Linked DNA regions of Homo sapiens. The protein of the gene in region 1 purifies or fractionates together with the protein of each later gene. This does not show direct contact. Each region holds a gene or a part of one and is shown in the gene's direction. Other genes may lie near its edges.

What was found.
Region 2: the proteins of CLASRP (region 1) and ZBTB20 purify together in Homo sapiens (affinity purification with mass spectrometry; one large-scale study listed by BioGRID and IntAct). This does not show direct contact.
Region 3: the proteins of CLASRP (region 1) and RGL3 purify together in Homo sapiens (affinity purification with mass spectrometry; one large-scale study listed by BioGRID and IntAct). This does not show direct contact.
Region 4: the proteins of CLASRP (region 1) and SNX3 purify together in Homo sapiens (affinity purification with mass spectrometry; one large-scale study listed by BioGRID and IntAct). This does not show direct contact.
Region 5: the proteins of CLASRP (region 1) and ZSWIM8 purify together in Homo sapiens (affinity purification with mass spectrometry; one large-scale study listed by BioGRID and IntAct). This does not show direct contact.
Region 6: the proteins of CLASRP (region 1) and TCF7L2 purify together in Homo sapiens (affinity purification with mass spectrometry; one large-scale study listed by BioGRID and IntAct). This does not show direct contact.
Region 7: the proteins of CLASRP (region 1) and HELZ purify together in Homo sapiens (affinity purification with mass spectrometry; 2 studies listed by BioGRID and IntAct, with this or other methods). This does not show direct contact.

The regions. Positions count from the first base shown.
Region 1 is NC_000019.10:45,066,545-45,070,044, forward strand, and holds part of CLASRP (CLK4-associating serine/arginine rich protein), read left to right. Parts: intron 1-792; coding exon 793-1,050; intron 1,051-1,470; coding exon 1,471-1,510; coding exon of another isoform or gene 1,511-1,514; intron 1,515-1,875; coding exon 1,876-1,936; intron 1,937-2,521; coding exon 2,522-2,580; intron 2,581-2,657; coding exon 2,658-2,704; exon of another isoform or gene 2,705-2,710; intron 2,711-3,399; coding exon of another isoform or gene 3,400-3,477; coding exon 3,478-3,500. UniProt on the Homo sapiens protein: Probably functions as an alternative splicing regulator. May regulate the mRNA splicing of genes such as CLK1. May act by regulating members of the CLK kinase family.
Region 2 is NC_000003.12:115,137,289-115,140,788, reverse strand, and holds part of ZBTB20 (zinc finger and BTB domain-containing protein 20), read left to right. Parts: intron 1-3,500. UniProt on the Homo sapiens protein: May be a transcription factor that may be involved in hematopoiesis, oncogenesis, and immune responses. Plays a role in postnatal myogenesis, may be involved in the regulation of satellite cells self-renewal.
Region 3 is NC_000019.10:11,398,815-11,402,314, reverse strand, and holds part of RGL3 (ral guanine nucleotide dissociation stimulator-like 3), read left to right. Parts: intron 1-67; coding exon 68-100; intron 101-182; coding exon 183-304; intron 305-2,017; coding exon 2,018-2,113; intron 2,114-2,206; coding exon 2,207-2,275; intron 2,276-2,345; coding exon of another isoform or gene 2,346-2,363; coding exon 2,364-2,460; intron 2,461-3,500.
Region 4 is NC_000006.12:108,226,541-108,230,040, reverse strand, and holds part of SNX3 (sorting nexin-3), read left to right. Parts: intron 1-3,500. UniProt on the Homo sapiens protein: Phosphoinositide-binding protein required for multivesicular body formation. Specifically binds phosphatidylinositol 3-phosphate (PtdIns(P3)).
Region 5 is NC_000010.11:73,792,106-73,795,605, forward strand, and holds part of ZSWIM8 (zinc finger SWIM domain-containing protein 8), read left to right. Parts: coding exon 1-747; intron 748-1,482; coding exon 1,483-1,614; intron 1,615-1,759; coding exon 1,760-1,939; intron 1,940-2,041; coding exon 2,042-2,225; intron 2,226-2,435; coding exon 2,436-2,534; intron 2,535-3,433; coding exon 3,434-3,500. UniProt on the Homo sapiens protein: Substrate recognition component of a SCF-like E3 ubiquitin-protein ligase complex that promotes target-directed microRNA degradation (TDMD), a process that mediates degradation of microRNAs (miRNAs).
Region 6 is NC_000010.11:113,149,247-113,152,746, forward strand, and holds part of TCF7L2 (transcription factor 7-like 2), read left to right. Parts: intron 1-1,736; coding exon of another isoform or gene 1,737-1,751; coding exon 1,752-1,877; intron 1,878-2,478; coding exon 2,479-2,638; intron 2,639-3,086; coding exon 3,087-3,194; intron 3,195-3,500. UniProt on the Homo sapiens protein: Participates in the Wnt signaling pathway and modulates MYC expression by binding to its promoter in a sequence-specific manner. Acts as a repressor in the absence of CTNNB1, and as activator in its presence.
Region 7 is NC_000017.11:67,189,697-67,193,196, reverse strand, and holds part of HELZ (probable helicase with zinc finger domain), read left to right. Parts: intron 1-2,841; coding exon 2,842-3,040; intron 3,041-3,500. UniProt on the Homo sapiens protein: May act as a helicase that plays a role in RNA metabolism in multiple tissues and organs within the developing embryo.

The DNA.
Region 1 (3,500 bases):
CCCAGGAGGCAGAGGTTGCAGTGAGCCCAGCTATTGCACCACTGCACTCCAGCCTGGGCGACAGAGAGAGACTGTCTCAAAAAAAAAAAAAAAAAAAAAAAAAAGAGCCCAAGCAGAGTCAGCGTGTGGCCCAGAATTGGCTTCCAGGTCATATATTCCTTGTAGCTTACCCAGAGCAATGACAGGAGAAAGGCTTGGGGGACAGGTGGGACCTGGGCACATCTTGCATGCCAGCCTGAGAGTGGGCAGTGGGTGGAGAGTCCCACCAGTGTCCTGAGCAGGGAGAGGATGGGGTTCCGCATCCCCAGACTGGAACTTGTGGGTCTGTGCTGAGACTGGTGGAGGACAAGGGGTGGTCCCCACTATTGTCGAGACCCTGGACACAAGCAGGATGAGGTGGTGGGTGAGGGTGTAGATGAGGTCACCGTGGAACACTGTTGTGCCTGAGCTGGACACGGCTCATAAAGGGGGAGCCAGCCATCCCTCCCAGAGCTCACCTCCCGGGAAGTTAGCAAGCGGGTGTCTAGTGAGGGAGAGGTGACGTGGGCCAGGCAGGGCTCATGATGGCAGGACTGCCCTTAGGCTGAGTGTATCTAGAGCGCCATCTCTGTAGCCGGAGGGAGGCCGGAATGCCGCTCTGGGACATTTTGGAGGGAGAGTAGCAGGAGAGGAGAGTCGAGCCTGTCACCCTGGGCCTTGCAGGAAGGAGGACTGTGGATCCGGACCCAGGGTGGGGTGCGGTTGGGGTCCCTGGAGCCTCACAGTCCTCCTCCCGCCCTGCTGCATCCCCAGGAGCCGCTCCCACTCAGGGGACCGCTACAGGCGGGGCGGCCGGGGCCTCAGGCACCACAGCAGTAGCCGCAGCCGCAGCAGCTGGTCCCTCAGCCCGTCCCGCAGTCGCAGCCTGACTCGCAGCCGCAGCCATAGCCCCAGCCCCAGCCAGAGCCGCAGCCGCAGCCGCAGCCGCAGCCAGAGCCCCTCGCCATCACCCGCAAGAGAGAAGCTGACCAGGCCGGCCGCGTCCCCTGCTGTGGGCGAGAAGCTGAAAAAGTGAGCGGGGCGGGTCTGGAGGAAGAGGGCTGCCAATCTCGGGTGGGGAGGGTGAACATCACTGTTTTCTTTTTGAGGGGAACTTAGCCCTACCCTGGGAGGTCTGGGGGGTGGTGTATGGCCCTGGCCTGGGAGGGTGGATTTCAGGGGGACACAGCCCTGGCCTGGGGGGTCTGAGGAGGACACACCAAATCCTGGAGGATCTGCACAATTAGAACCTTGTCCTGGGTGAGGGTCAGAGGGGGACAGGTCCCTGTCTTACAGGTTCTGTGGGGTCTGAGAGGGACATGGTTGCACCCTGGGGCATCTGAGGCCCATGCCTTGGCTACCTGGTCTGAGGGCAGTGCTGAGGCTGGGGTCAGAGGTGGCAGCTGCCCTTTCCCCCTCCCAACCATGTCCTCTGGCCCTGCCCCCACCCAGGACCGAACCTGCCGCTGGTAAAGAGACAGGAGCTGCCAAAGTCAGTAAGAATTTGGAACTCGCCCGTCTAATTCCCGTCAGCAGCAGTGCCCAAGAGCTGGGCCCGGTGGGCCTGCAGGGGGGCCCGGGTGGGCTGGGAGATCCAGCCCCAGGGACAGGGAGGGGAGGGGAAGGGTCTGCCCCTGTGAGAACCATGTCCCTCTCCCCTCCTCACTGTACACTGGGGCTCCACCTGTCACTGAACCTCTGGGAGCCTCAGGGCTGTCCACAGCCTGCCCCTCCTCCCCACGTCGTTCTCCCCCCCCCACCCCCCCCCCGCACAAAGCCCCAGGCTTTTGGCTGAGGTGGGTTGTGGGAGCTCTGGGACACCCACCCCCTCTCCCGCCTCTTCTCCCCCCTCCCCAGCCCAAGCTGACGCCTCAGGAGAAGCTGAAACTGAGGATGCAGAAGGCGCTGAACAGGCAGTGTATGTTCTGCCCTGTCCCTCCAGGGTTTCACAGCTCTTCTTTCCCTTGGCAGTGGGAGCAAGGAGACTCAGCACCACTTTGGGAGGCCTGGCCCTTCCCTAGAGAGGCCACGCAGGCACGGAGGTGCTCTGGGGAGGAATGGGTTTGCATCAGCTCCGCTGCCGCTATGCTGGGGCCTCTGCAGTCAGGTTGACCTGTCTGAGCTCAGCTTCCTCATTTTAGAGAGTGGGGCTCTTAGCGGGCACGGTGGCTCACACCTGTAATCCCAGCACTTTGGGAGGCCGAGGTGGGCGGATCACGAGGTCAGGAGATCGAGACCATTAACACGGTGAAACCCCGTCTCTCTAAAACTACAAAAAATTAGCCAGGCATGTTGGTGGGCGCCTGTAGTCCCAGCTACTCAGGAGGCTGAGGCAGGAGATGGCGCGAACCCGGGGGGCGGAGCCTGCAGTGAGCCAAGATCACGCCACTGCACTCCAGCCTGGGCGACAGAGCGAGACTCTGTCTCAAAAAAAAAAAAAAAGAAAAAAGAGAGTGGGGCTCTTAAGGGAACCCCTCAGCCACCCTGTTCTTTCTCTCTACAGTCAAGGCGGATAAGAAGGCGGCACAAGAAAAGATGATCCAGCAGGAGCATGAGCGGCAGGTGAAGTGGGAAAGGGAGGGCTGGGGTGACGGGTGGGTGCTGGCCTGGCCACGTCCTCATAGCCCTGTCTGCTGCAGGAGCGGGAAGACGAGCTTCGAGCCATGGCCCGCAAGATCCGCATGAAGTAAGACCTTGCCCCTCCCTGTCCCATGGCCACACCTCCTGGCCTGCCTGGCCTTCCCACCATGGGCTGCTGGCTCAAGCCCTGCCCAGCTCCCTGTGGGTGGATGAAAGGCAGAGATCCCTGCCTGGCCCTCGGGGCTGTGCCCAGCTGCCTCTCTTGCTCCTCTCCCTGAATTTCCTCCCACCATTTCGACCTGCCTCCCGCCACCGCGACCTCCTCCCAGCTCTTCCAGCCTCCAAGTGCCAGTCACCTTTGCTGTTTTTTTGGCCTGGCAAGCTGTTCCTGATACCCCTTCCCCACTCACCCACCGCCATGGGTCTTTCTCCTGTCCCAGCCTCAGTTTGCTTATCTCCTAAATGGAGATACAGTCACTGTCCCACCTCACAGGCTGTTGGGAGGATTTGACAAGATCAAGGCCAGGCACGGAGGAGGCACCCAGTAGACGTAGCCATTGGGTTGCCAAGCCTGGCCACTGTGACGGAGACCATTTCAACACTCACTGTGTGCAGGTGCCCCAGTGCGGCAGGAAATGATGGGACTATCCTGCCTCCCTCTGTTCCCCAGGCTTTCCTAGGAAGGGGCTGGGATTCCAGTCAGCCCCGCCAGCTGGGGTCCCTCTGAACCTGGGGCTCCCTTTCCAAGCGGGGATTGGTGGCAGTACCGGCCCCCTTGGTTTACTGTCTTCCTCGGAGTAGGGTGTTGGAAGCACCTGCCCTCCCTGAGTTCAGTGTGTCCAGTGTTCCCGGCCAGATGCTCATGCCATGCCTTCGCAGGGAGCGGGAACGCCGAGAGAAGG
Region 2 (3,500 bases), on another chromosome or scaffold:
ATATTAAAAAGATTTTGATTTTTAATTTTGAAACTCTTGGTACCCATTTTCTTACTGTCATTAGTAAGTTTCTAGAAATGTATTTGTATTTCACTGCTTTATAAATTATCAGAAATTCATTTTAGTGTGCCCTCATTTTGGAGCACAGATTACCATTACAAAAGGAAACTATTAATAGAACAATCTCTAACAATTTACAAAACAAAACAAAACAAAGACCCCTACCACCACCACACACACATACACACTCTCTCGCACTCACACACATTTTCAGTAAATCTCAGGCTTCCTTTAGACAAAAGAAAATGGCCTTTTCCATGGTTTTGATTTAAGATAAAGCATAAATTTTGTTTGTAGTTTTCATTACTTCTAACGAGTTTTTACAGTTTTATGCTATTTTAAATGTGTCGTCTTAGGAATATAAAATTAAGTAAGTAGAAGTAATTACATCCAAAGATTTTTAACTTGGGGACAATATCTACCTTTTCAATCTCTCATATATTAAATTCAACTCTTTGTTATACATTGTCAAAAATCTCAGATGTGAAGTTAGTAGAGGTTGTTCTAGTTCTACTGCGGCCATTAATTAGTTACATGATCTATGGCATGTTGCATAATCTATGCGGATCTCCACCTTAGCACCTTAGATTTTTCATTTTTAGGGTCATTTTCAGTTCTAATCATCTGAGTTTGTTTCCTTCAACAATTGAATTGTTATTTTAGCTTCTGGTAGTGTTACTGAAACTGATGCTTAGGACACCTAGAAACAGTATATGTAAAATACTTGACTTTGCTTTCCACTTTTAGTCTTTTATAAAAGTTTAATTTTAATGATACATGCTTTCTAACATAGCACACTAGTAAAGTATAGATATATGATATTAAGTACTTATAATCTTTCATAGTGGGTAAGTATAATAAATCTATTAGTTTACATAAATACTTTGCCAACTCATCTTAACTCAGGAAGGTGTATTGCTAATAGAATTTGTAAACTTGACTCTGCATTTCATGCAGCATAAAGTTGTTAAAATTGAGGATGCAGGTAACAACAGAATGAATCAACTCACATTTTTCTATTTCTATAAAATCTATAGATAGATACATTTATTCAAAGATAAAAGATAAATTTGGTTTTGTGATTCTCTTCTCTAAGCAAAACATAGGTATACATTGAGTAATCAGGAACCACCTCCATGCAGATCTTATAAAATTGGTAATTTTTAACTACTGCATTTAGTTTTTGATCTTATATTATATCCATGCACAGATAGATTTACATAGGAAGGAAGATAAGGTAGGCAAAGAAATCTGACTAGGAAAGAATCTGTTAGAAAAGACTTTGCAAATATTGTCCTGTTATATATTGAAAGAAACAACTATATACAATTTCTATATACCTACTTGATATATCTTTAATGATAACCTCAAAGTTCTAATTTAAAATTTTACTCTCAGTTTCTGTTTAATTGACTCATCCTTTTTGCTAGTATGAATGGTAGTGAAAGGCTTAAAGCTATCTAACATTACCTTAGATGGAAACAGCAATCTGCAGGAAGCTATACTATCCTGAATCCTCTCATTTCCTCACATCCACCCACAGCTCCAGATGTTCCTGGTACTGATCATATAATATTTTATAAATCACCTCGTAGCCAAAATATACTGTCTGTTAGATGATGGTAAGCTATTTTAGCTTACCAAACATCTAGCTAATCAGGAGAAATTGTAAGAATAATTTTAGATCAATTGTTGGACCCAAAAGGTGGTATGAATGCTTCAATGCATGCAAATAATGGAAAAGATATTCTAAATGTGCTTAAGGGAAGCTGGTTTTAGTGTTAACTGAAACCCAGTATACATATTGAAGAATCACTGTAACTCTTCTAAAGCCATGAGTACCAAAAAGACTAGCAAAATTATTAGTGGGAAGCACAGTGAAAAGTAAATGCATTCTATCCTTGTATTAAACAGGAATACTAATCACACCACCAACACCAATAGTAGCCAACATTTACTGAGATCTTACTTTGTTGCAGTCATTGGTTATATCTGCATTTTTTCAGTTAATTCCACAATCCCGTGAGACAGGTACCTTTATTATCCCAATTTTAAAGATATGCGAAGGCTCAGAAAGGGTAAGTATCTTGTTCAAAGTCACACAGCTAAGTATAAAACACATGGGAAATTAAACTCAAGTACAGCTCTGGAGAACCTAAGCTCTTAATCACCACCCCATCAGACCACTATTCTGGGACGATTTTAACTCAGTGCTTGCCCAGATTAATAATGGCAATTTTATTTCAGAAAGGCATAGATTTGGAGAAGGTTCTAGAGAAGGGTACAAGGTGAAAGAGTTGTAAGTAGGAACAATGGTTGCTGTGATAGAATCTTTTTAAAATATAACTCTTCAGTCTAGAATTAAAAATGATGATAGAGAATTTGTCTAAAGGTTGTACAATGAATAGACTCTAACTGCTGCCTGATTTAGTTCTATTTGCAACAGTGGAGCTGGGTACCATGTTAAAGCAGGCCTTGGAAATCATGGGTAGGAGCAGGACAAAGGAAGTATTACTGAAAGTTCTGGGAAGGTAGAGGTCAAAAAGGAAAACTAAATCAAACCCGACTGAATAACCAAGAACCAGGTATCATGCAGAAATAGGGGTGAGGGAGACTAGAAACAGTATATTCAAAGGGTAGCAAATCCTATGACTTTGGAAGGCTTTTGTGTTTGTTTGTTCTTTGTGCCCTTAACATTTGTTTCAGAAACCAATAGCTGGCTTAAATATGGGTCACTGAGAGTTTCGAAAACAAAGACTGCTATGCTTTTGGCACAAAAACATGATCATCAGTCCTAACCTAGAGTTAGGCAGTAAGTTTAAGTGCATGACAAAGATATGCAATGTAGCACAATCTGTGTGGTAAGCCATTTATTGAATGCCTACTGTGTGCCACCCAATTTGGAAATCACTGTTCTAGGAACATTTATAATCTACATTGTTGTTTGCTGTCCAATTTTCAAAAACAGGAAAACATCTGTTAACTTTCTTGAGGATGTGATGGATATGAGGGGTAAAATATTATATACCTTAATTTTGTTTTATTTATTATGGAATTTAGCTTTTGTCTCCTCCTTCCCATATTCATGGAATTTTAAAACAGCCTCTACTATGCTTTGAGTGGAATACAGTCTAGACTTTTATTATGTACTTTAACTTTTCCTTGATTTGTCACTATACTGAAAGAAAGATTTAATTTTATCTGATAGTGTAAATGCATTTCTATCAGAGTAGTAGTCTCAAATCAGTTCAGGTAAAGTCAGTGTACATGACTTTGGATTATATTTAGTATAGTCAGCATGCATGAATTAAAAGGAATTATAGTAACCTTTAAAGTGAATTTTTATTGCAGATAATTTAAATGACCTCCAACCAAGTACTTCTGTCATGTATACATACATACTCATATACCCTTTGTATACAAGGTACTAAAAACTTAAA
Region 3 (3,500 bases), about 34 Mb from region 1:
CAGCCCCTGACCTTGACCCTTGACCCTTGACCCTGGGTGCTGCAATTCAGACACACTTTGCCCCCAGGGGGATCTCATTAACTTTGAGAAGAGGAGGAAGGTGAGTGGAGGCTACAGTGGGTGTGGTGGTGCCTGAGGGTGGGGGTGGGGCAGGGGTAGGGTCTTAGAGGCTCGTCCTCCAGGAGTGGGAGATCCTGGCCCGCATCCAGCAGCTGCAGAGGCGCTGTCAGAGCTACACCCTGAGCCCCCACCCGCCCATCCTGGCTGCCCTGCATGCCCAGAACCAGCTCACCGAGGAGCAGAGGTGACCACCCTGTAGCCTGTCCCAGCCCCACCCCAGCTGAGCCTGGGTCACCAACTGGATTCCACCCACTCCATACACACCTCCAGCTCCTCCCAAGACCCCCTCTTGAGCCCTGATCCCCCACTACAACCTGTGACCTTGCAGTATCTCCAGTCGAATCAAATAGACTGGGCCTGGTGGTTTACTCGTGTAATCCCAGCACTTGGGAGGCCAAGGTGGGTGGATCACTTGAGCCCAGGATTTCGAGACCAGCCTGGGCAACATGGCGAAACCCCATATCTACAAAAAAATACAAAAATTAGCTGAACGTGGCTGGGCACGGTGGCTCACACCTGTAATCCCAGCACTTTGGGAGGCCGAGGCGGGTGAATCACATGAGGTAAGGAGTTTGAGACCAGCCTGGCTAACAGAGTGAAACCCCGTCTCTACTAAAAATACAAAAAAAAAATTAGCCAGGTGTAGTGGCAGGCGCCTGTAGTCCCAGCTACTTGGGAGGCTGAGGCAGGAGAATGGCGTGAACCCGGGAGGCAGAGCTTGCAGGGAGCCGAGATGGTGCCACTGCACTCCAGCCTGGGCAACAGAGCGAGACTCCGTCTCAAAAAAAAAAAAAAAAAATTAGCTGAATGTGGTGTTGAGTGCCGTTGGTCCCAACTACTTGGGAGGCTGAGGTGGGAGGATTGCTGGAGCCTGGGAGGCAGAGGTTGGAGTGAGCCAAAATCACGCCACTGCAGTTCCAGTCTAGGTGACAGAGTGAGACCCTGTCTCAAAAAAAAAAAAAAAAAAATAGTCACAATTGACCTCTGACCTCAATTTCAACCCCATCTGATTTTCTGACCTCAACTTTAGCATTCAGCTGGCCATTCAACTCAACTGTCCCATCTGTTGACTTCCCCATCTTTGGTCCTATCTGACCCATGACCTTATTCATGACCCCTCATCTGACTCTCTGACCCCAACCCTTGACCCTCAGTTCTGAGTAACTGACTCCAACTTTTATGTTTGACTGTCCAGCTTGACTATGACAACTGTGTCCTTTCTTTCTATATAACTGTGACCCTAACCATTGACCCCAATGGTGACCTGACCCCAGTCTGACCCTGACTTTATTTTATTTATTTATTTATTTATTTATTTATTTATTTATTTATTTATTTTTGAGACAGAGTCTGGCTCTGTTTCCCAGGCTGGAGTGCAGTGGAGTGATCTCGGCTCACTGTAGCCCCCGCCTCCCAGGTTCAAGCAATTCTACTGCCTCAGCCTCCCCGGTAGCCGCAATTACAGGCGCGAGCTACCACACCTGGCTAATTTTTTTTGTATTTTTAGTAGAGACGGGGTTTCACTATATTGGCCAGGCTGGTTTCGAACTCTTGACCCGAAGCAATCCTCTCGCCTCAGCCTCCCAAAGTGCTAGGATTACAGGCGTGAGCCACTGCACCCAGTCCTGACCCTGACTTTAATCCTGACCCAATTTGATTCCTTAGTGCCACCCTGTGAATCTCTTTGTGACCTCCTGACCAGCCATCCTGTCCCATCTCTGATAAGACCTTGATGCTCAATGACCCTCATTTACCACCCTGACCCTGGCATGTGGGGTGCCACCTCTGGCTGCTCCCCCTTACACCCCAAACCCACCTCCCAACTGATTCCAACTCTTATCTCTCCATCCCCTGTATTTCCTGCCCCCACCACCTCATCCACATATTGACCCCTCAGCTACCGGCTCTCCCGGGTCATTGAGCCACCAGCTGCCTCCTGCCCCAGCTCCCCACGCATCCGACGGCGGATCAGCCTCACCAAGCGTCTCAGTGCGTGAGTCTCGGGGTGTGTGTAGGGGCGGTGATGTGGGCAGATATCAGCAAGGGCTGCTCCTGCCTTAGCCTCATCCCCTGTCCCCATCCTTAGGAAGCTTGCCCGAGAGAAAAGCTCATCACCTAGTGGGAGTCCCGGGGACCCCTCATCCCCCACCTCCAGGTGAGCATTCTGCTTGGTGATGGGACTGGGGATCATGGGATCAGGAGTCAGCACAGCCACCCCACCTCAGCCTCTGCATCTCCCCCAGTGTGTCCCCAGGGTCACCCCCCTCAAGTCCTAGAAGCAGAGATGCTCCTGCTGGCAGTCCCCCGGCCTCTCCAGGGCCCCAGGGCCCCAGCACCAAGGTACCAAGACGGCTTGTGTGTGCATGCGGGCCTGCGGGCACCCAGGCTCTGTGTGTGTGCACGTGTGTGTGCATGCACATGTGTACACACAGGATTGTGGGGCCAGGAGTGTATACAGGAGGCACACTGAGCGCCCGGGGTATCCATCCAGGGGATTGCATGCATCTGCACGGCCCTGTTTGGGTGATCACTCATAAATCCGACTCGTGCTCAGATTTGGACCTGTGTAACTGCTTGCCCATGGGTCATCTAGGGTGCAATCACATCACACCCCTTTTTATTTGAAACAGGGTCTTCTTGCTCTGTCACCCAGGCTGAAGTGCAGCGGTGCAATCTCAGCTCACCGCAACTTCCACCCCTCCCCCAGGCTCAAGCAATCCTTCCACCTCAGCCTCCCAAGTAGCTAGGACCACAGGTGTGCACCACCATGCCCTGCTATTTTTTTTATTTAGTAGAGATGAGGTTTCGCCATGTTGCCCAGGTGGGTTTCGAACTCCTGAGCTCAAACAATGCACTCACCTCGGCCTCCCAAAGTGCTGGGATTACAGGTGTGAGCCACCGCACCCAGCCTACACTTTTTTGAGGACATGTATGTCCCTAAGAATCTGCATACCATGGCAGACACGGTGGCTATTGCCTGTGATCCCGGCACTTTGGGAAGCCAAAGTGGGAGGATTGCTTGAGGCCGGGAGTTCAAGACCAGCCTGGGCAACATAGTGAGACCCTATTTCTATTAAAAGTCAAAAAAATTAGCTGGGTGTAGTCCCAGCTACTCAGCAGGCTGAGGTGGAAGGATCGCTTGAGTTTGAGGCTGCAGTGAGCTACGATCATGCCACGGCACTCTAGCCTGCATGATAGAGCGAGATCCTGTTTATGAAGAAAAAGAGACTGGGCACGGTGGCTCACGCCTGTAATCCCAGCACTCTGGGAGGCCGAGGTGGGCGGATCACGAGGTCAAGAGATCGAGACCATCCTGGCCAACGTGGTGAAACCCTGTCTCTACTGAAAATAGAAAAATTAGCTGGGTATGGTCGCGCACA
Region 4 (3,500 bases), on another chromosome or scaffold:
AGCAGATAAACCTAGGAATCAACTAGAGCCATCTGTTCTTAATTCTACACCTTAATGCTACATGCAGCTCATCTGTGGCTTCTACTTCTGTAGTAACTTCTCTGTTCTATTTTTTCTGTTCATAGCTATCATTTTTCTATTCAAACATATTTATTAACTCCTGATGCTCACAGGTAGTCACCTTAGCCCCATATTTAGAGTGCAATTTAAACTTTTCAGTTTTATTTCCCATCATTCCCTATGCTTTAGAATATTCAAGAATTATATACTAAATATACACTGTACTTGTTTCTTCTCTGCATTTAGCTCACACTATTTTCACCATTTTCAGCTGTCTTATAGTATGGCTAGCTCTGTGTTAAAAGAGTCCTGGCTGAGGCCATTGCACTCGCGCCATTTTACCCTAGCATGGGCGACAAGAGCGAAACTCTGTCTCAAAAACAAACAAAACGAAAAAGAGTCCTGACTGGCCGTACGCAGTGGCTCACACCTCATATTCCAGCACTTTGGGAGGCTGAGGTGGAAGGATCCCTTGAGCCCAGGAGTTCAAGACCAGCCTGAGCAACTTAGGGAGACCCTGTCTCTAAAGGAAGGAAGGGGAGGGAGGGAGGGGGAGAGGGAGGGGAAGCAGAGAGACTGAGGAAAGGAAAGAAAAGGAGGGGAAAGAATGAATGAATCCGGGCCAAATCAATTGTCAATTCTTCCGTGCTTTTCATATTATACAAATGGTATTATGCTATATAATATACTGTTCTGAAACTTTTTTTTTTTTTTTTTTTTTGAGGTGGAGTCTCGCTCTGTCGCCCAGGCTGGAGTGCAGTGGCATGATCTCACCTCACTGCAACCTCCGCCTCCCGGGTTCAAGCGATTATCCTGCCATAGCCTCCGGAGTAGCAGGAATTACAGGCTCGTGCCACCTCACCCGGCTAATGTTTGTATTTTTAGTAGAGATGGGGTTTCACTGTATTGGCCAGGCTGGTCTTGAACTCCTGACCTCAAGTGATCCACCCGCCTCAGCCTCCCAAAGTGCTGGGATTATAGGCATAAGCCACCGCACCCAGCCTGAAACTTTTTACATGTCATACATTCTAGACAGCTTTTCTGATTAACCTATGGCTGAGTTATATTTTGTAAAAAGCTGTGTAATATAAGCTTGTAATGTAAGATTTATTGTTTCTGGTCTTTTTTGGGGTTTTTTTTTGTGTCTATTACAATGCTAAAATATTTTTGTATGTGTGGAAATATTTGTAGGATTAATTCCCATTGAAATTGTTCATTCAAAAGTTATGTGTATTTAATAGAGTAATGGATAATGTATTCACCAAAATGCCCCCCTTTTTTTTGAGACCGTCTCCCTCTGTCACCCAGGCTGAAATACAGTGAGTGATGTGATCACAGCTCATGCAGCCTCAGCCTCGAAGGCTGAAGCCATCCTGACACCTTATCTTCCCACTACAGGCATGTGCCACCATACCCAGCTAATTTTTTTTTTTTTAAACAGAGTTTCGCTCTTGTTGCCCAGGCTGGAGTGCAGTGGCGCAATCTTGGTTCACTGCAGTCTCCGCTTCCCGGGTTCAAGCAGTTCTGCCTCAGCATCCCGAGTAGCTGGGATTACAGGTACCCGCCACCATGCCTGGCTAATTTTTGTGTTTTTAGTAGAGACAGGGTTTCACCATGTTGTCCAGGCTGGTCGCGAACTCCTGACCTCAGATGATCCACCCGCCTTGGCCTCCCAAAGTGCTGGGATTACAGGCATGAGCCACCACGCCCAGCCTGCCCAGCTAATTTTTTATTTTTTGTAGAGATGGGGGTCTCACCATGTTGCCCAGCCTGGTCTCAAACTCCTGTGATCCTCCCACCTCAGCCTTCCAAAGTACAGGGATTACAGGCTTGAGCCATCATGCCCAGCCAGTTTGTAGTATTTTTAACCATGGAAATTCAACTTTTTATATGCTTATTTTCTAACCTTGATTGGTGTATGTTTCATAAGGGCCAGGTCTGCATCTTATTCATCATTATAAATAATGATTCTCCCTTATCTAGCATGGTGCCCTTTTATAGATGATCAGTAAATAATAGTTTAGTCCTCCTGAAGCTGTAGGTAAAAAACCTCTCCGCCCTTCAATCATTTTATGAAAGTTAAATAAATTGAAAGTGACCAATCACAGGAGTTTCAGCAGTGATAGTTCAGTACCTTAAACAACAACAACAACAAAAAAAAAAAACCCACATTTTGCACTTAGTTATTTTAATCAGTTACATTGAATTACAAATCCTTGTAATGATGAGGAAGACGTTTAACAGGCTAAGTTAACCACTGCATATGTAATGGGCAAGTGATGTTTGAATTTCTTGATGTGACTTTAAACTCTAAAGCAGTCCTCATGCAAAAAGAGAAATCATAACCAGTTAAGAAAACTAAAGGAACTTTCTTAAGCTAATCATGGTCCTCTAAATTTAAGTATATAAACTATCAAACTATTAGCTAATCATAGAAGGGAAAGTACTTTTCCCCCTCACCCCTCCCCTTTCTGTTAGAGTGAATCAGATATAATCATGATTGTGTCAAAAGTTCAAAAGGGAAAATGGAAGGTAAAATGAGCTGAATTGGCACTCTTCTCTCAACATTGTACCTGTAAGCTTGATATGTTGTTTCAGAGATTAACTTTATAGACTTCCGTACCCAGAAGTATGAAAATTCTTAGGGGACTCTTTTCGCAAGCTTGATCTTAACGTATTTGAATAAAGAGAGCAGTTAATCCCCTTTGTAAAGTAATTTGAGAGGAGGGAATTCAGAATGTAAAATCTCACCTGCAGAAAACACTCAACTCTGTAAAGGCCTTTTTATCTTTAAGGCATTTACAAAGACTTAATATTTTAATGCGGAAGGGTGAACTTGGTTAAAAAGCCAATAGGTGAAATTAGAGAGAAATAATCCAGTGCTTTCTTTCTGGGAATTATTCTACTCTCCAGGGGACCTAATTTTATTCCCTGTGGGGAATGAGAATACCCTCTGTACAACAAGCCAGCATCTTTAAATATAAGCTTGACTTTTAGTATAATAAGAGTCTTGTTAGGTGCAATTTTTTCCTTAGTCATTTATACAATGAACAAATGTTGTGGTTACCTGGGAAAGAAAATTCAAGTGCTTTTAAATCTCTTGTGAGATTTGGTTTCATGCTTGAAACCTATACACTGTTATGCCCAATAGCATCTGTTGAAAATTCTGAGCTGTAAGGTATACAACATAGAGAAGTTAATACACTTAGGAAAAAATTGAGACCACTACAAAATGGATTTAAGGGCCTGAATTAAAAGCTTTTCTTGTGCTGAGTGACAGCTACTTACCAGTAGCATTAAGCTTAACAAATAAGTAGAACTTTCTTAGGAGTGAATATTACAAGATGATGTCCCTGTATACACAGTAGGAAGCCAGTCTTTCCTTCAGGTGGCACTTAACTTTTTTCTTCCAATTGTAAAACACTTTTTAGTTCTATGCA
Region 5 (3,500 bases), on another chromosome or scaffold:
GGCCTGGAGGAATCCCGGGACCGGCCCCGACCCCTTCCTACTGAGCCAGCTGTGCGGCCCAAGGAGCCTGGGACCAAGCGAAAGGGCTTGGGTGAGGGGGTCCCCTCATCACAGCGGGGTCCCCGCCGCCTCTCAGCTGAAGGGGGAGATAAAGCTCTACATAAGATGGGTCCAGGTGGGGGCAAAGCCAAGGCACTGGGTGGGGCTGGCAGTGGGAGCAAGGGCTCAGCAGGTGGCGGAAGCAAGCGACGGCTGAGCAGCGAAGACAGCTCCCTGGAGCCAGACCTGGCCGAGATGAGCCTGGATGACAGCAGCCTGGCCCTGGGCGCAGAGGCCAGCACCTTCGGGGGATTCCCTGAGAGCCCTCCACCCTGTCCTCTCCACGGTGGCTCCCGAGGCCCTTCCACTTTCCTTCCTGAGCCCCCAGATACTTATGAAGAAGATGGTGGTGTGTACTTCTCGGAAGGGCCTGAGCCTCCCACAGCCTCTGTTGGCCCCCCTGGCCTACTGCCTGGGGATGTCTGTACCCAGGACGACCTCCCTTCTACAGATGAGAGTGGCAATGGGCTTCCCAAAACCAAAGAGGCAGCCCCTGCAGTTGGAGAGGAGGATGATGACTACCAGGCGTACTATCTGAATGCCCAGGATGGGGCTGGGGGCGAGGAAGAGAAGGCCGAGGGCGGGGCTGGGGAGGAGCACGACCTGTTTGCTGGGCTGAAGCCACTGGAACAGGAGAGTCGCATGGAGGTGAGGGGATGGAAGGAGGGAGGGCTGGGTGCTCCTTAGCCACAACTGGGAGGGGCTATCTAGCTCTAGTTGGGAGTGTCAGGACCATCAGCAGGATTGTGAGAACCCTGTTGCAGGCGCCGAACTGGTCTCCCTGCTTTCAGTCTACTCACTTTTCTGCTTCCACGAGATTTTCCTGAAATGTGATGGTGTCACTCTGCTGCTTAAAACCCTTCAATGGGTTCCTGTTGCCCTTATGATAAAATGAAAGTGGTTGGCATGACCTGTGAGGGTCCACTTGATCTGGTCTTTGCCTGCTTTGCCAGCCTCACTTGGCTGCTCTGTCCTTTGCACTCCAGTCAGCTGAATCACTCATGTATCTGCCATGCTCTCTCTCTTGCCTCCAGGATTTTGGACAGATTGACCTTTCTGCCTGGAATGCTCTTCCCCATTAGCCCGTGTTTCTCCTTCAGGTCTCAGGGATCTTAAAGATCACTTCCTCTAGGGAGTCTCTCTGATACTGTCCCTGTGCCCCAAGATATCCCACCTGCTTCCCCTTGACCTTTCCCTGTAATAGCTGGCATCACGGTGGCATGTGTGTTTATGTGTCTGTCTTTCTAACCAGAGCTCCTATGGAGCGGCACAGGGCCTGGCATGTAGCAAGTGTTCAAGGAATGTTGGCTGCATGAGTGAGCATGATGTCCTGCTCCTGGAAGTTGGGACTTTAACCTGTCTGGTCCCATGTCCTCCTTCCAGGTACTGTTTGCCTGTGCTGAGGCCCTGCATGCGCATGGCTATAGCAGTGAGGCCTCCCGTCTCACTGTGGAGCTTGCCCAGGATCTGCTAGCCAACCCACCCGACCTCAAGGTAGAGCCGCCCCCTGCCAAGGTGAGAGACCCCCTTCCTCTACCTTCCCCTCCCCCACTTACCCCCAACCTGCTCCCATGCCCCACCCCAAGTGAGAGCATCCTTCTACCTCCACCAAGGTAAGTCAGAATCATCTGCCTGTCTCCTGTGTTTCTTCCCTTTCTAGGGCAAGAAGAACAAGGTATCCACGAGCCGTCAGACCTGGGTGGCTACCAACACCCTGAGCAAGGCGGCCTTCCTGTTGACAGTGCTAAGTGAGCGTCCAGAGCACCACAACCTGGCCTTCCGAGTTGGCATGTTTGCCTTGGAGCTACAGAGGCCTCCAGCTTCTACCAAGGCCTTGGAGGTCAGAGGCTCCATCTCAGCCTTGTATTTCAGTCTCTTTAGAGCCTTGCACCTTGATCTCTATTGACACACCAGAGGTCTGAGCTCCTTCCTGTGCCCTCAGGTGAAGCTGGCATACCAGGAGTCTGAGGTGGCTGCCCTGCTCAAGAAGATCCCTCTGGGTCCAAGTGAGATGAGTACCATGCGGTGCCGGGCAGAGGAACTTCGGGAGGGGACACTCTGTGACTATCGGCCTGTGTTGCCTCTCATGCTGGCCAGTTTCATCTTTGACGTTCTCTGTGCTCCAGGTATGATGCCTGACCCTACAGTAAGTGGGGAACTGGGGTAGGGGTAGCTTTCTCTAAGAAAGACCAAGAGCCCCAAGTTTCTGAATCACCTTTAGGACCCATCAGGCAGCTTCATGGGTAGGTCTGTGATGATGAGGATTTTGGGTTCCCCTGTATTTTTTCCCATGCATGATACTTCTGTCTGCCTGACTTACCCCAACTTTTATACAGTGGTTTCTCCCACAGGTTCCCGGCCCCCAAGTCGCAACTGGAACAGCGAGACACCTGGGGATGAGGAGCTTGGATTTGAAGCAGCAGTTGCTGCCTTGGGTGAGTCTTGAGCATATCAACGAGCTAAGCCTGGTTCAGGTCTTGAAGGACATGAGACCTGTGCCTTGTTGTGAAGGGCTGTATGGTAATGGGAAGGTCAGGATGACATGTGTGAGCCAACTAGTGCCTGTAAGACAGGAATTCAGGGCAAAAATGTGTGCTATATGGCTGGGCGTGGTGGCCCATGCTTGTAATCGCAGCGCTTTGGGAGGCTGAAGCAGGAGGATTGTTTGAGCTCAGGAGTTCATGACCAGCCTGGGCAACCTAGCAAGACCTCATCTCTACTTAAAAAAAAAAAAAAAAAAAAAAAAAAAATTAGCCAGGTGTGGTGGCACATGCCTTGTGCTGCCAGCTACTCCAGAGGCTGAAGTGGGAGAATTGCTTTAGCCTGGAGATTGAGGCTGCAGTGAACTGTGATTGCACCACTGCCCTCTAGCCTGGGCAACAGAGTGAAACCTTGTCTCAAACAAAGAAAAAAAAAATTGTGTGCTATGGGTATTGGGTATTGTAAGGGCAGCAAAACAAAAATCTAGAGAAAGGCCTAAGGGAAGTGGTAGAATATGGAATGTGGGTTAAAAGATCAGTAGGTCCTAAACCAGCGAACACCATGAGTAAATACACAACGCAATCAAGTTTTCATGAGAATGAGGAGGCCAGCTTCCCTAAAATGATAAGTACATGCTGGGTAAGCAGATTGGACCTGGTTATGAAGGTTTTGAAAAGCACACCAGAGCTTAGGCTGGATATAATAGTCAACGAAGACTTCTATAGGTGATGTGGGTTGGACCAAGGGAACCCCTTACTTCATATGCTGATGGCTTGGGAACCCTGGCCTCTTACCTTTGCTGTCTTGGGAATTATGACTACTCTCAATCCCCATAAGGTCCTCTTTCTCGCAGGCATGAAGACAACAGTGAGCGAGGCAGAACATCCCCTCTTATGTGAAGGCACACGTCGGGAGAAGGG
Region 6 (3,500 bases), on another chromosome or scaffold:
TTATTTTGAGAGGAAGGGGATGAAGATGAAGGTTGTTAGCATGTTTGTTTCCTTACATTTTCCTTCTCTCTCTCTTTTTTTGATACATTCGAAGGACTTGTATTGTTGTTATTTTTAAAATCATGTCATGCAGTCTTCACTACTGGCTTAAATTTGTAAAGGCAGTGGCAGGAAAGGCCACGTCAGCGTGGGATTTTTGAGTGAAATGTCTACTGTGGCTTGGGCCTTCTTCAAGAATCAGCATTAACTTTCCTTCCTCTGTTGATCTGTGTAGATTCAGTTAGTACTTTAATCATTTTATTATTTTTCAAATTAATGTTTGTTACCTTATTTTGGCTGAATGGAAACTATCTCTAGCCCGCTTCTGGAAAAAACTTTGTAAATACATACAGAATCATTTTGGAAGAATTGTCGTGATCGATCCTCATTAGGCCCTCTAGTTCCCACCAGAATTGGCTTTGTAAAGAGCAGATTGTTATTCCTTGGATGGTACATTGGACTGCTTTGGTTTGGACTTATTAAGAAAGCAACAGTTGCCATGATCTTCATCTGAACAGCTTCCCATCTGCTCACTTGAATCACCTTGCCAGGTTGGAGCAGGAGGCTGCCATATTGTTTACTTTTGGGATTCTGCCCTTTCTGTCCCTCACTATTTTTTCTATAGTAGGATATGTTGCTTGAAGAGGGGTGAGTCTTCCAACCCAGTACAAATCATGGTGACACCACGCAAAATTGAAAATGAGAAAGGTGTTTGATCCAGTTGTCAGTCTGCAGATGGGCCAAGAGTAGGTTGAGATTAGCTCTTTCTGTCCTGGCTAATGTACTTGGTTGGGAAATGCCAATTCAGGTCCTAAAATGTGCCTTAGAGAACTGTCCAAAAAATGAGCAGCATGAGAGGAGAAAACACAAACTGTATCTTTCATTTATAATTTTGATAATCATTTAGAAGACTTCTTAATGATGCCTAGACAACATATGAAGTAAAAGTGATATAGGAATCCTAAATTTTAGAGGAGAAAGGGCATACAAATCAGAATCAAAGGTTTATTGTGTGTGTGTGCACCTTTCCTTTCCTTTTTTTTTTTGCATCTTTCCATAAAGGGATAGAAACTTATTTAAAATGTCCATGACTTATGATATGAACCAAATAGGAACTATTTGAATTTTCCCTGTCTTCCTGCCTCACTCTCTCCCATTCCTGTCAAATGATGGGACACAGCACAAAAGAAAAATAAAAATTGTATTGCACTTCATCAACAGGATGAGGCCTAATGAGGCTTGCACAGCATTGTCAAAAATGTATGTATATTTCAACCACGTTAATATTTTATTTAGCTGTCAATATACAACAAAAGATTTCACCTTTCATTTTAGAGCTGATTAGGACTTAGGAAATTGTCTTCTTAGATGCCACTAATAATGCCTCAAAAAACAAGTGGACGTGCGATTTCTGGCAGGTAGTCCAAGCCCACTTTTCCGCCCAAGTACGTCAGTTGAATTTGTCTTTTGCTAAAGATGTTAAAAATCATAATGTCTTATGTCAGTAGCAATAATGAATTGGCTTTAATGACATTATGAGAATCATTATGTTTAATTTATCGCTAATTAATGCTGACAGGTTTCATATGCCTTGGGTTGCTTTCATGTGAGTGTTACGTGCTGTTTTTTTTTTTCTTTTTAATTGTGTGTACACATCCCTCCTCATTCATTCATTTTGATTCTGACGATTTACACAGCTTTCTGTCTTCTAGGTTCCCTCCCCATATGGTCCCACCACATCATACGCTACACACGACGGGCATTCCGCATCCGGCCATAGTCACACCAACAGTCAAACAGGAATCGTCCCAGAGTGATGTCGGCTCACTCCATAGTTCGTAAGTGTTGCTGTTTTTCTCACCTTCTTCGTAGCCGCAGTGTTCTGCAAGCCTGTTGCAGCTGCTGGGTGGTGGCTTTCTGCCTAAGGTTGGCCTCGTTTGGTTTGACTGCAGCCAATACCCAGCCTGTGTGGGCTCTTCACTCCCTTACAAAGAGAGAGAGAGTGCACAGTGGCAGAATCTCACTGTACCACCGTGGGTTAGAACAGAACTGTTTTTTGTGTGTGTACTTGGATACACTGGGATTTGCAACCACTTCCCTGCCCCCTAACCGCATCATTGAACATTTAGAGCTTTGTTCTGCAAGCAGGAGAAAACCCTGCCGAGGTGAAGACAGCAACCATGTGCTTTCCCCTCTGGCTTGGGAAAATTGTATATTTGTGAAACTTGAGGAAGTGATTGCAAAATCCCTCTCTTCCCCCAACCCCTCCCCAAGCTATTTTTGTTCCATTTTCCGGGGTGCAGAAGAACTAAAAGCATGCTTTTTAATCCAAAACTGCTAGGCTTGGGGGTTATGAGACAAGGAGATACGTTCCCTGCCATGGAGGAAGTTGGACCACGACCTTGTTTATTGGGTTGCGTCTGTTTTGTCTATCTCCAGAAAGCATCAGGACTCCAAAAAGGAAGAAGAAAAGAAGAAGCCCCACATAAAGAAACCTCTTAATGCATTCATGTTGTATATGAAGGAAATGAGAGCAAAGGTCGTAGCTGAGTGCACGTTGAAAGAAAGCGCGGCCATCAACCAGATCCTTGGGCGGAGGGTAGGTGACGCCCTTCTCAGGGAGAAGCGGGGGGCGGGTGGTGAGGGACCAGAGTGCAGCAGGTCAGGTGGCAGAATGTCTCTGTCCCCATTTCTTTGGAGAATTCTTGCCCTTCAGCCACATTCTGAATCCTTGAATGGCCTTCACTGAGTCAGGACTAGTTATTCTGCACTCAGCGTTCAGAACAGCCACAGCCATGCTCTTCCCCTACCCGAGCGAGTGAGCAAATGACAGAATGACATAGATAACAAATCAAGTTTTGTCTAAACATTCCTGTTAGTGCCAGGACCCAGCCGACGGTCAGTATGTACAGATTATACCATTTCTGGACGGACTCACCCAAAAAGGCAGCATTATTTATCCCCTGACCTTGGCGTAATGTGTGATGTTCTTTCATGCTTTTCTCTTTGTTCATGTCTTTCTCATCTGTACCCCACGTCCCCTCCAGTGGCATGCACTGTCCAGAGAAGAGCAAGCGAAATACTACGAGCTGGCCCGGAAGGAGCGACAGCTTCATATGCAACTGTACCCCGGCTGGTCCGCGCGGGATAACTATGTAGGTGGATCATTTTCGTTAGGATTGGAGTCTGTAGAGCTGTGTTGTGCGTCTATACGGACAAAGAGAACAGGACCTGCCACTTGACTAGGGTGGGCCTCAGGACCATCCAATCTGCCCGCTTTGGGGACTGGTAGCATCTTCCTGGATCGCTAAACTGCAGGGAGGGGCTTCCCGTGTGGATGGTTGGATCAGCTCACAGTCATTCTTCAGGGTGGAGAGAGGAGGCTGCAGTCCCAGTGTTCCAGCTCAGGACCAATGAGGTTGATTTGGTGCTTGTCTCCTTTCTAGAGGAGGCAAGGCTCT
Region 7 (3,500 bases), on another chromosome or scaffold:
ATTTTTGTATTTTTTTTGTAGAGATGGGGTTTCACCATGTTGCTCAGGCTGGTTTTGAACTCCTGAGCTCAAGCAATCCTCCTGCCTTGGCCTCCCAAAATGCTGGGATTACAGATGTGAGCCACCACACCTGGCCATGGCCATTTGTTAATGTGAAATTTACTTAGGTTGTGGTGATTGAAGTTGACAATACTTTATGTAAAAAGTAGAGCATAAAATAGATAAAGAAATGTTAAATTGTTTTAACCTTTCTGAAAAATATTATCTTCATGTAATTCTTATGTAGAATTTATGAATAATTCATAATGAAGGGCTAACCTTTCAAAATTTAATAATTATTTATTAATGTGGAAGGAATGATTAAAGTTACAGTTAAAATGGTAAACTCTTCGGTTCTTTTTGTAAGAACTTGTAACTAGTGGGATTTTTAGATATAAATTCTCACCGCCTCTTTAGATTACTTTTGATAGCGAAGGAAATTTGCTACATGGTTTTGATTATTGAATAGTCAGGAAACTAATGTGTAAGTATTGAAAATCCTAGTGGTGTTATGTTGTAGAAGAGACAGAACACAATCCTATGAAAAGGAAATATGAGAAGATTTGAAGTACAGATAAGAATATAACACTTTCACTTTTTAGGGAAATAATTTAAAGCCAAGCAATAGAAAGACAAAGATTTGGCCCATTAAGACATATTGAAAAGAAACATAAAATGATTTTAAATGTGTCTTCAAAAGTGTAAGAGAATTTAATAAATAGTATAATTTTAAGTTCAAGTACTTTGTTGTACCATCAGGAAAAGTTTTAAATATACTCATTTTTTCAAATACGGTGAACCATTTGAAAATTCATATTGTGCTGTGGTTCATTTCTTATTTCTTACTATCCATATTTTTTCCAATTGAAAAATGGTCTGTAATATAACATCTCTCTTTTGCTATTTATAGTTTTATATTATATTTACATTTAATTATGTATTTTTTTTTATTTTTGAGACAGAGTTTTGCTCTTGTTGCCCAGGCTGGAGTGCAATGGCATGATCTCGGCTTACTGCAACCTCCGCCTCCCGGGTTCAAGCGATTCTCCTGCCTCAGCCTCCCAAGTAGCTGGGATTATAGGCATGTGCCACCACCCCGGCTAATTTTCTATTTTTAGTAGAGACAGGGTTTCTGCATGTTGGTCAGGCTGGTCTTGAACTCCCGACCTCAGGTGATGCGCCTGCCTTGGCCTCCCAAAGTGCTGGGATTACAGGCGTGAGCCACTGTGCCCGGCCATTTAATTATATTTCTAGTTTAATTTTCATTTTTTCTCAGAAGATCTTTTATCAATGTTTTTATTATTTTTATTTAAAAACTGGCTTTGCCTATAATTTTGCAGGGTATTTAAAACTTTTTTAAAAAGTTAATGCCATCTCAAAAAAAAAAAAAAAAAGTTAATGATCAGGGCCGGGCATGGTGACTCATGCCTGTAATCCCAGCTCTTTGGGAGGCCAAGGCAGGTGGATCACTTGAGGTCAGGAGTTCGAGACCAGCCTGGCCAACATGCAACCCCATCTCTACTAAAAATACAAAAACTAGCCGGGCATTGTGGTGGCAGGCACCTGTAATCCCAGCTACTCTGAAGGCTGAGGCAGGAGCATCCCTTGAACCCGGGAGGCAGAGGCTGCAGTGAGCCGAGATCGTGCCACTGCGCTCTAGCCTGGGCAACAGAGCGAGACTATCTCCAAAAAAAAAAATTATCAAAGTATTTTATTTTTATCTGTTTTTGGTCACTGAATTGTCAGTTGAATTTTCCGAGTTGTAAACGTCGAGAAATCATTGACTCTCTGTCCTTTAAAATGAACATTTATAATTTATTCCCTTGAATTTAACATGACTGTTGAATAAATTTGTGACTCTGTAATATAAAACTTTGATTCTAAATTTATTTAAAGCTTCAAGCAAGTTAATATATTTTCACTGAAATATAGGTAATAGTAATGTAGAAAAGAGTAAAATCACTATGTTTAAAGGTGAAAAGTAAAAGCCTTAAAATGGTAATTAGTCATATGTTAACTGTTTTTTCAGAATGAAATTCCCATATATAGAAAATTTTTTTAAGGTCCTTATCATTTTGGGAAGTAGGGTATACCTGTGTGTGAGCAGCAAATCCACTTGATGTCAGTATTGCTTAAAAAAATCCTACTCTGGCTGGGCGTGGTGGCTCACGCCTATAATCCCAGCACTTTGGGAGGCCGAGGCGGGTGGATCACCAAGTCAGGAGTTCAAGACCAGCCTGGCCAAGATGATGAAACCCCGTCTCTACTAAAAATACAAAAACTAGCCAGGCGTGGTGGCGGGCGCCTGTAATCCCAGCTACCCGGGAGGCTGAGGCAGAGAATTGCTTGAAACCAGGAGGCAGAGGTTGCAGTGAGTCGAGATTACGCCACTGCACTCCAGCCTGGGCAACGGAGTGAGACTCCGTCTCAAAAACAAAAAACAAAAAATCAAAAACAAAACCCAGTTACACTAAGAGGAATTGTCTAGTAAGAGTCCTTATATGACCAAGGAAGCTACTTTTCAGTGCCTCTTTTGGAGGGCCGACGTGAATACCTATGCCTTAGGATCCCCTAATTCCAGAGAAAGTCAGTGAATAATATGGGGAGCTGATGTTTTGGTTAACTGTTGTAAATGTTCTCTAAACCTCTTCTCCCTCCTTTGTACAAGACAGTACGATAAATATGGCCTTTCAGCACATGAAGTTTTGTTTTTATTGAAGAATCAGAGGGCAAATGCTGGGAGTTTATTTTTAAATGGTTCAACAAAGTATATGATAAAACAGTCTTTCCTATTCTACTTAGATTTTTAGAACAAGGAATCTGTAGGTATGGTGCCCAGTGTACTTCAGCACATTCCCAGGAAGAACTAGCAGAATGGCAGAAAAGATATGCTTCACGGCTGATAAAATTGAAACAGCAAAATGAGAATAAACAGCTCTCAGGCAGTTACATGGAAACCTTGATAGAAAAGTGGATGAATTCATTGTCTCCTGAGAAAGTGGTGAGGAAAATAAGCTACATTATTTTTTGTTTGTCTTAAACAATGAACTTGAGTCTTGACTTTATTGTGTGCTCTATTTTGGTTTATTTCCTTATCTTCTTTGCAAAGAACTTGATTCTGATAGAATGATGTTTTTAGTAGCTATAGTAGACCCATTTGTTAAAATGAAGAGCAGAACTAAACCACTTGTTTGGAGATTTGCCTGTACTGTATTAATTACCTTCATTCAGGCAGTTTTTGAGTGCCATTTTTGTGGTGGTGGTTAATTTTCTTTTCTCTCTTATTTTAGCTTTACTATATTTTGTTCTTGTCAAAATTACTGAAAATGAAGGTATAAAATACTTTGGTCTGTAAACAGTTCCATCATCATCTTAACTGTTGACATTTATTTTCCATGCTAAAAGATTTTGTTTGTGCCCTTAGCAATAAAAACATAACATAAATTGCTGTCTGTTTTCAG